Regions from separate parts of the Homo sapiens genome. Here region 1 is linked to region 2. Evidence: fine-mapped expression QTL. A gene starts in region 2. The other region holds a variant in brackets. All regions are shown on one strand. Distances are between the middles of the regions. Region 1 overlaps DYNC2I1 (dynein 2 intermediate chain 1). Region 2 holds the start of DYNC2I1 (dynein 2 intermediate chain 1).

What was found. PIP is the estimated chance that this variant, and not a neighbour inherited with it, causes the effect.
Region 1: its variant is the best candidate, but not a certain one, in a credible set for the expression of DYNC2I1 in unexposed skin (GTEx, PIP 0.69).

What each region holds. Positions count from the first base shown.
Region 1 is chr7:158,898,326-158,902,325 of GRCh38, forward strand. It overlaps DYNC2I1 (dynein 2 intermediate chain 1), which reads left to right. Exons shown (of 25, transcript NM_018051.5): 9 at 3,414-3,491. Among named protein-coding and RNA genes, the nearest start is that of DYNC2I1, 44 kb to the left of the region's middle. The variant C/G (reference allele first, on the strand shown) is at 1,743.
Region 2 is chr7:158,853,534-158,858,064 of GRCh38, forward strand. It overlaps DYNC2I1 (dynein 2 intermediate chain 1), which reads left to right and starts at 3,025. Exons shown (of 25, transcript NM_018051.5): 1 at 3,025-3,217. The coding sequence starts at 3,203. LOC124901796 (a long non-coding RNA gene) reads right to left here and starts at 2,989. Exons shown (of 2, transcript XR_007060627.1): 1 at 2,848-2,989; 2 at 1,605-1,863. RefSeq lists a silencer at 3,081-3,550 and an enhancer at 3,901-4,442.

The DNA.
Region 1 (4,000 bases), 45 kb after region 2:
AGAGGGATGTTGAAGTCTCCAGCTGTAATAGTGGATTCATCTATTTCTTCTTGCACTTCTATTAGTTTTTGACTTAAATAATTTGACCCTCACACATATTAAGGATTGTTATGTCTTTCATTAAAGACATAAAATTGGCATCTTTATCATTGTGTAATGCCCTTCTTTATTCATGTTGACTCTCTTTACTTTGAAGTGTGCTGCGTCAGAAATTAATATAATGACTTTTGCTTTCTTTTGATTAGTGTGAGCATGGTATATTTTTCTTCATTTGGGTTTCCTGAAGACAATAAGTAGATGGATCTTGTTTTTTGATCCTCTCTGACAATCTCTGTCTTGTGATTGGTACATTTAGATCATTGATGTTCAAAGTAATTATTGATATATTGGATTAGTATCTGCCATATTTGTTACTATTTTTTATTTGTTGCCCTTGTTATTTGTTCCTGTTTTTGTCTTTCATTCTTTTTTTGCCTTCTGTGGTTTTAATAGAACATCTTATGATTCTATTTTCTCTCCTTTCTTAGCATATCAGTTAAAGGTTGTTTTTTTTTTTTAACTTTTTAAAGTGGTTTAAATACATTTACAACCAATACAAGTCCACTTTTGAATAAGACTGTATCACTCCCATTCCTTGTATCCTTGCTGTCATTCATTTTACTTGTGTATAAGCAGACATAAGCATGTTATCCCTTGGTATTGGAACAGGATTGGTTCCTGGACCCCCTGTGGATACTAAAATCTGCAAACGCTCAAGTTCCTTAAGTAAAATGGCATAGGATTTGCATATAACCTATGCATGTTCTCCCATGTATTTTAAGTCATCTCTAGATTGCTTATAAAACCTAATACAATGTAAATGCTATGTAAATAGTTGTTATACTGTATTTTAAAATTTGTATTATTTTTTATTTTTATTTTTCCAAATATTTTTGGTCTGTGGTTGGTTGAATCCATGGATGTGGAACCCACAGATAAGGAGGGCTAACTATGCATATGTGTACACAAACACACATACACACACACGGATAAATACCTAAGCATACGTAATTGAATACATTTTTGCTACTATTATTCTGAACAAACTGTTATCTGTTAGATCAATTAAGGAAAAGAAAAGGAAGAGTTATTTCCCTTTACTTATTTCTTCTTCCATCTTTTCTTTTTTTTATATAGACCCAAGTTTCTGACCTATATTATTTTCCTTCTGATAACGGTTTGGCTGTGTCCCCACCCAAATCTCAACTTGAGTTTATCTCCCAGAATTCCCACATGTTGTGGGAGGGACCCAGGGGGAGGTAATTGAATCATGGGGCCTGGTCTTTCCCATGCTATTCTCGTGATAGTGAATACATCTCATGAGATCTGATGGGTTTATCAGGGGTTTCTGCTTTTGCCTCTTCCTCATTTTCTCTTCCTGCCACCACGTTCAAGAAGTGCCTTTTGCCTCCTGCCATGATTCTGAGGCCTCCCCAGCCATGTGGAACTGTAAGTCCAATGAAACCTCTTTTTCTTCCCAGTCTCGGTTATGTCTTTATCAGCAGTGTGAAAACGGACTAATACACCTTCTTTCTGAAGAACTTCTTTTTATGTTGCTTGCAAGACAGGTCTACTGGCAACAAATTCCCTCAATTTTGTTTGAAAGTCTTTATTTCTCCTTCACTTTGGAAGCATAATTTTATAGAGTATATGTGTAATTTTGGGCTGCTGAATATTTTTCTCTCAGTACTTTAAACATTTCT[C/G]TATGCTGTCTTCTTGCTTGCATGGTATCTGAGAAACTGAATGTAATTCTTTTTTTTTTTTTTTTCTTTTTGAGACAGAGTTTTGCTGTCATTGCCCAGGCTGGAGTGCAATGGTGCGATCTCAGCTCGCTGCAACCTCTGCCTCCCAGGTTCAAGTGATTCTCCTGCTTCAGCCTCCCAAGTAGCTGGGGTTACAGGCAAGTGCCACCACGCCCAGCTAATTTTTATGTTTTTAGTAGAGATGGGGTTTCACCATGTTAGTCAGGCTGGTCTTGAACTCCTGACCTCAGATGATCCACCTGCCTCGGCCTCCCAAAGTGCTGGGATTATAGGTGTGAGCCACCGCGCCCAGCCTGTAATTCTTATCTATGTTCCTCAGTAGATAAAGTGTTTTTTCCCCATCTGGCTTCTTTCAGGATTTTGTCCTTATCTGTGATTTTTCTGTAGTTTGAATATAAGATGCCTAGGTGTAGATGTTTTGATATTGATCTTGGTGTTCTATGAGCTTCCTGGATGCGTGGTTTGGTGTCTGACATCAGTTTGGAGAAATTCTCAGTCATTATTGTATCAAGTATTCTGTTCCTTTCTCTCTTCTTCTGCCATCCCCATTATACATGTGAATACCTTTTGCAGTTGTCCCACAGTTCTTGGATATTTTGTTCTGTTTTTTTTTTTTTTTTTTCCTTCCCGCTTTTTGTTCTCTTTGCTTTTCAGTTTTGGGGGTTTCTATTGAGGTATCATCAAGCACAGAGACTTTTCTTCAGCTCTGTCCAGTTTACTAATGAGCCCATCAAAGTTGTTCTTCACTTCTGTTTCTGTTGTTTTGTTGTTTTTGACCTCGAACTTTCCTTTCTGGTTCTTTCTTAGACTTTCCATCTCTCTGCTTGCCTGCTATCAACTTTGTCTATTAGAGCTCTTAGGATGTCCTCATAGTTGTTTTAAGTTCCTGTTCTGATAATTCCAACATCCCTGCCATGTCTGGAACTGGTGCTTGCTCTGTCTCTTCAAACTGTATTTTCTGCTTTCTAGTATGCTTTGTAATATCTTCTTGATTGTGCAGTGGCGCGATCTTGGCTCACTGCAACGTCTGCCTCCCAGGCTCAAGCAGTCCTCTCACCTCAGCCTCTGGAGTAGCTGGGAACACAGGTGCACACCACCATGCCCAGCTAATTTTTTGTATTTTTGGTAGAGATGCGGTTTCGCCATGTTGCCCACGCTGGTCTTCAGCTCCTGAGTTCAAGTAATCTGCCTGCCTTGACCTCCCAAAGTGCTGGGATTAAAGGTGTGAGCCACAGTGCTCACTACAGCTACACTGTCTTTAATGGTGTAGATAAGCTGAGCACCATTCAGCGGGGAATATATTCATGGATAAGAAATGGATTGCTGCACATTTGAAGTTTATTTGTAAAACACTTAAAAAATTTTTAGCCACCAGAATTATAGAGGTTTCCCAAAAAGGATGTTTACTGTTTTCTCTTTTTGGTCCTACCTGTAAGTTAGCAAGGGTATTTCTTAAAGGAATTTAACATTATATTAGTTTTACAAATACCTAGAGTTTAAAATTAGCAACATCAAAGGAATGTCAGAAAACATATATGTTTTCCCAATCTATTTGCAATATTCAATTTTATGATTGAATTTTTTGGTTTTGTGTTTGATTTTTACCTCTAGGAAATTGAAAAGGAAGAAACTGATTTAGAAAATGCTAGAGCTGATGCATATACAGCCAGTTGTGAAGATGATTTTGAAGTATGTATAAAAGTTAAAACTTTCCTTAGCTTAAAAATCATTTATTCTTAAAAATCAGCTTATATATAGTAATTTGATGTCCTTTTTATTCTTTTTATTAATCCTAATACTCAATATCTGGCTAGGTTGATTTAGGTCAAGCTGTTACCTGTAAAATGCTTGCTATACTTCTACTAATACTTACCAATATGATGTAATTAAATGATTTTATAATTTAACTCATATTTAAGTGCAGTGCATAAAAAGATGTATACATAGGTATCTATAAAAATACATACACTTTCACATTCTCAGCACAAATGTTTGCACGTGATGATAGTTGATAGGTCTTCTGTATATGGTTCTGTATTGTGTGATTTATTTTTAGAGAAATAAAGGTAGCAGTTTATATAAATTTACCTTCAAAAACATTAAAATCAGGGAACTATAAATATCTTTCTTAGCTGTAATAAGGACATTGTCTGTTTTAAGTTATAAAGTGTCATGTTTTGTTCAGTATGAGGGATAAT
Region 2 (4,531 bases):
TTGTAACCGCCCAACAGGTTCTCCTTGCCGGCTGCTCAGACAGAGATGATTTATCTAGATAGGAAATTGCAATAGAGAAAGAATTTAATTCACGCAGAGCCGGCTGTATGGGAGACCAGAGGTTTTTTTTTTTTTTTTTAGATGGAGTTTTGCTCTTGTTGCCCAGGCTGGAGTGCAGTGGCGCGATCTTGGCTCACTGCAACCTCCCACTCCTGGGTTCAAGAGAGTCTCCTGCCTCAGCCCCCAAGTAGCTGGGATTACAGGCATGTACCACCACACCCAGCTAATTTTGTATTTTTAGTAGAGACGGGCTTTCTCCATGTTGGTCAGGCTGGTCTCAAACTCCCGACCTCAGGTGATCTGCCTGCCTCAGCCTCCCAAAGTGCTGGGATTACAGGCATGAGCCACCATGCCCAGTGGAGTTTTATTATTGCTCAAATCAGTGTCCCCCAAAATTTGAGGATTGGAGTTTGAAGGATAATTTAGTGGGTGGGGGGGCGTTGAGAAGTGGGGAGTGCTGATTGGTAGGATTGGAGATGAAATCAGGGAATCCAAGCTGTCTTCTTGCGCTGAGTCAGTTCCTAAGTGGGGGTCACAAGACCAGATGAGCCAGTTTATCCATCTGGGTTGCACCAGCCGACCCATTGAGTGAAGGGACTGAAAAATGTCTCAAGCACCAATCTTAGGTTTTACAATAGTGATATTATCCCTAGGAGTAATTGAGGAGGTTTAGAATCTTGTGGCCTTTAGCTGCATGACTCCTAAACCATAATTTCTAATCTCATGGCTAATTTGTTAGTCCTCCAAAGGCCATCTAGTCCCCAGCAAGAAGAGGGTTTGCATCATTCTCAGCAAACTATCACAAGAACAGAAAACCAAACACCGCATGTTCTCACTCATAAGTGGGAGTTGAACAATGAGAACACATGGACACAGGGAGAGGAACATCACACGTGGGGGTCTGTCGGGGGGGGCTGGGGGATAGCATTAGGAGAAATACCTAATGTAGATGACGGGTTGATGGGTGTCGCAAACCACCGTGGCATGTGTATACCTATGTAACAAACCTGCACGTTCTGCACATGTACCCCAGAACTTAAAGTATAATAATAATAAAAAAAGAGAAGGGGGTTTGTTTTGGGAAAGGGCTGTTATCTTTCTTTCAAAGTTAAACTATTCTACGACCAGGAATGGACAAGGACAGCTTGGAGGTTAGAAGCAAGATGGAGTCAGGTTAGATCTCTTTCACTGTCATAATTTTCTCAGTTCTAATTCTTGCAGAGGTAGTTTCAGACTTAAGTTGCAGATCTAAAGTTACAATTGGCGTGTCTTTGTTTAAGTGAGGACACACATCTTGAAAGGTCTCCAGGCTGGCAAAACATTTACACCTGGGAGACTGGTGGGGGCCAAGGTGCCCGGCCCTGCCTTCACGGGGGCCTGGCTGGCAGGAGCCTTGCAGCCTGCAAAGCAACAGCTGTGCATTTGGAAGAGGGTGTTGGGCGACTCGGCTTGCAACCACCCAAGGGGTTCACCTTGCCCGCTGCCTAGACAGAGCCTATCGAGATGGGGGAATTGCAATAGAGAAAGAGTAATTTACACAGAGCTGGCTGTGCAGGAGACTAGAGTTTTATTATTACTCAAATCCATCTCCTTGAGCATTGAAGCATTCAGGGATCAGAGTTTTCAAGGATAACTTGGGTGGGGGGAAGCCAGTGAGCCAGGAGTGCTGATTGGTCAGAGATGAAATCATAGGGAGTCAAAGCGGTCTTCTTGCCCTTATCAGTTCCTGGGTGAGGGGCCACAAGATCTGATGAGCCAGTTTATTGATCTGGGTGGTGCCAGCTGATCCATCAAGTGCAGGTTCTGCAAAATATCTCAAGCACTGATCTTAGGAGCAGTTTAGGGAGGGTCAGAATATTGTAGCCTCCAGCTGCATATTAGAAACTACTCCTAAAACGTAATTTCTAATCTTGTGGCTAACATCAGTCCTACAAAGGCAATCAAGTCCCCAGGCAAGAAGGCCTGCTTTGGGAAAGGGCTGTTACCGTCTGTGTTTAAATTATAAAATATAAACTAAGTTTCTCCCAAAGTTAGTTCAGCCTACTGCCAGGAAGGAACAAGCACAGCTTGGAGGTCAGAAGCAAGATGCTGTGGGTTAAGTTACACCTCTTTTACTGCCTCAGTCATAATTTTGAAAAGGCGGTTTCAGGCTTTCAGCCCTAACTTTCCCTTTGGCTGAAGGAGTTCGGAGGTCCTGAGAGTTTTTGATTTTCCCTTACGTGTTGTATAAAAACAGTCTCTCAACGTTGATTCCTGCCTACCTTACTGCTTGTTTTTATCAAAAGACGACATATGGGAATATAATTTGTTAAGTGCAAAGCCTTATTCAAATGTAAAGCTCTTTTCTTTTTTTTTTTTTTTTTTTTGAGACAGAGTCTCGCTCTGTCGCCCAGGTTGGAGTGCAGTGGCGTGATCTCCGCTCACTGCAAGCTCCGTCTCCCAGGTTCACGCCATCCTTCTGCCTCAGCCTCCCGAGTAGCTGGGACTACAGGCGCCTGCTACTGCGCCCAGCTATTTTTTTTTTTTGTATTTTTAGTAGAGACGGGGTTTCACCGTGTTAGCCAGGATGGTCTCGATCTCCTGACCTCATGATCCACCCGCCTCCGCCTCCCAAAGTGCTGGGATTACAGGGGTGAGCCACCGCGCTCGGCCTCAAACGTAAAGCTCTTTTCAATATCTGCTCTCCCTTTCTATCTTCCCCGACTGTCAGTCCGGTCCCGTGGGAACCCGGGGCGGGTTGGGGCGAGTCAAGAGCCCCTGCACCCCAAGTCAGGGTACTGCACCTACCCCTTGGGGAGACCAACGACCGCTCGGTCCTCTGCTGCTCCTGCCTGGCGGTTGCTAGGAGCCGGGGAAGCGCAGGCGCATTGGGAGGGGCCGCGGGCACGCCGAGCAGCGACCACTCGGCCTTCCCCTGCTCCTGCCTGCCAGGTGCTAAAAATGCCGGGGATGCGCAGGCGCACTGGGAGAGGCCGCAGGGCACGCTGGGCAGTGCTTCTGGGCCCTCTGCTGCTCCTGCTTGTCGGTTGCTAGGCGCTGGGACGCGCCTCCCGAAGGGTGCGGGGCACAGGTGGCCTCTTCGGGGTGGACCGCGCCTGGCCGGGGCCGAGGACACCGCGGCCGCCCGGGCCTGCGGGAAGCGATGGAGCCCGGGAAGGTCGGTGCGGCGCTGGGTCTGGGCGAGGGGTGGTCGAGCTTCGCGGACTCCTTCGGGCGCCGCTAGCAGCGCCGCCGCCGCCCTCCCTTTGCGCAGCGGTTCTCTCGGCCGGGCCGGGGCTTCCCGGAGGAGCCGCGGTGCCTCCGAGGCAGGAAGGGAAACGGAGGCGCGGCTGGCCGTCGGCGCGAGGGATGGCAGGACGCCGGGCTCCCGGCGGTCGGGAGAGGCGGTCTGTGCAGCCTCAGGCCTGGGGTCGCCGCCGCGGCCCGTCTCCTCGCGCCCGGCCTGGAGGCGGCCTCGGCCCCTGCTGCGGGGCCGGGGTGGCTGAGGAGACATATTTAAAAGTTTATTAAATTTTAGCTGACTTAAGTTTAAATATGACTTGTCACAGTTTAAGAGGTTGAGAGAGTGCAGCCTGGGTGCTTGAGTTTGAATTCAGGATTTTGTATTTACTTGTATGACCTTGGCAAACTCACTTAACATGTCTTGTTTCCTAATTCATTCAATGGGCACAATAATAATAGCAACATTATAGGGTGTTTAAGAAGGTTAAGTGAGATATTATGTGTAAAAGTGCATAGACCAGTGCCTGCTTTCATTAACACTCAATAAATGTTAGATATTACTGTATTATTCTTATCTATTGATTCCCCACTGAAAGATGAGGAATTTAATTTGCATACATTTTCTTCTACCTTCACTCCTATTATTTTTTCCCCATCACTTACCTTTATGTGTTGAATAATACTCCTTAATTTGTATTTTATGTTATATAAACCTTAGGTTTTTGTTTTTTTTTTTTTTTTGAGATGGAGTCTCACTCTGTCACCAGGCTGGAATGCAATGGCACGAACTTGGCTTACTGCAACCTCCGACTCCAGGGTTCAAGAGATTCTCCTGCCTCAGTCTCCCGAGTAGGTGGGATTACAGATGTCCGCCACCAAGCCCAGCTGATTTTTGTATTTTTAGTAGAGATGAGGTTTCACCGTGTTGGCCAGGATGGTCTTGATCTCCTGACTTCGTGAGCCACTGCACCCGGCCTTTTTTTTTTTTTTTTTTTAAAGATAATTCCCCTTGTCGCCCAGGCTGGAGTACAGTGGCACGATCTCTACTCACCGCAACCTCCAACTCCTGGGTTCCAGCGATTCTCCTGCCTCAGCCTCCCGAGTAGCTGGGATTACAGGCAGGTGCCACTATGCCTGGCTAATTTTTGTATTTTTAGTAGGGATGGGGTTTCTCCATGTTGGTCAGGCTGGTCTCGAACTCCTGACCTCCGGTGATCCGCCCGCCTTGGCCTCCCAAAGTGCTGGGATT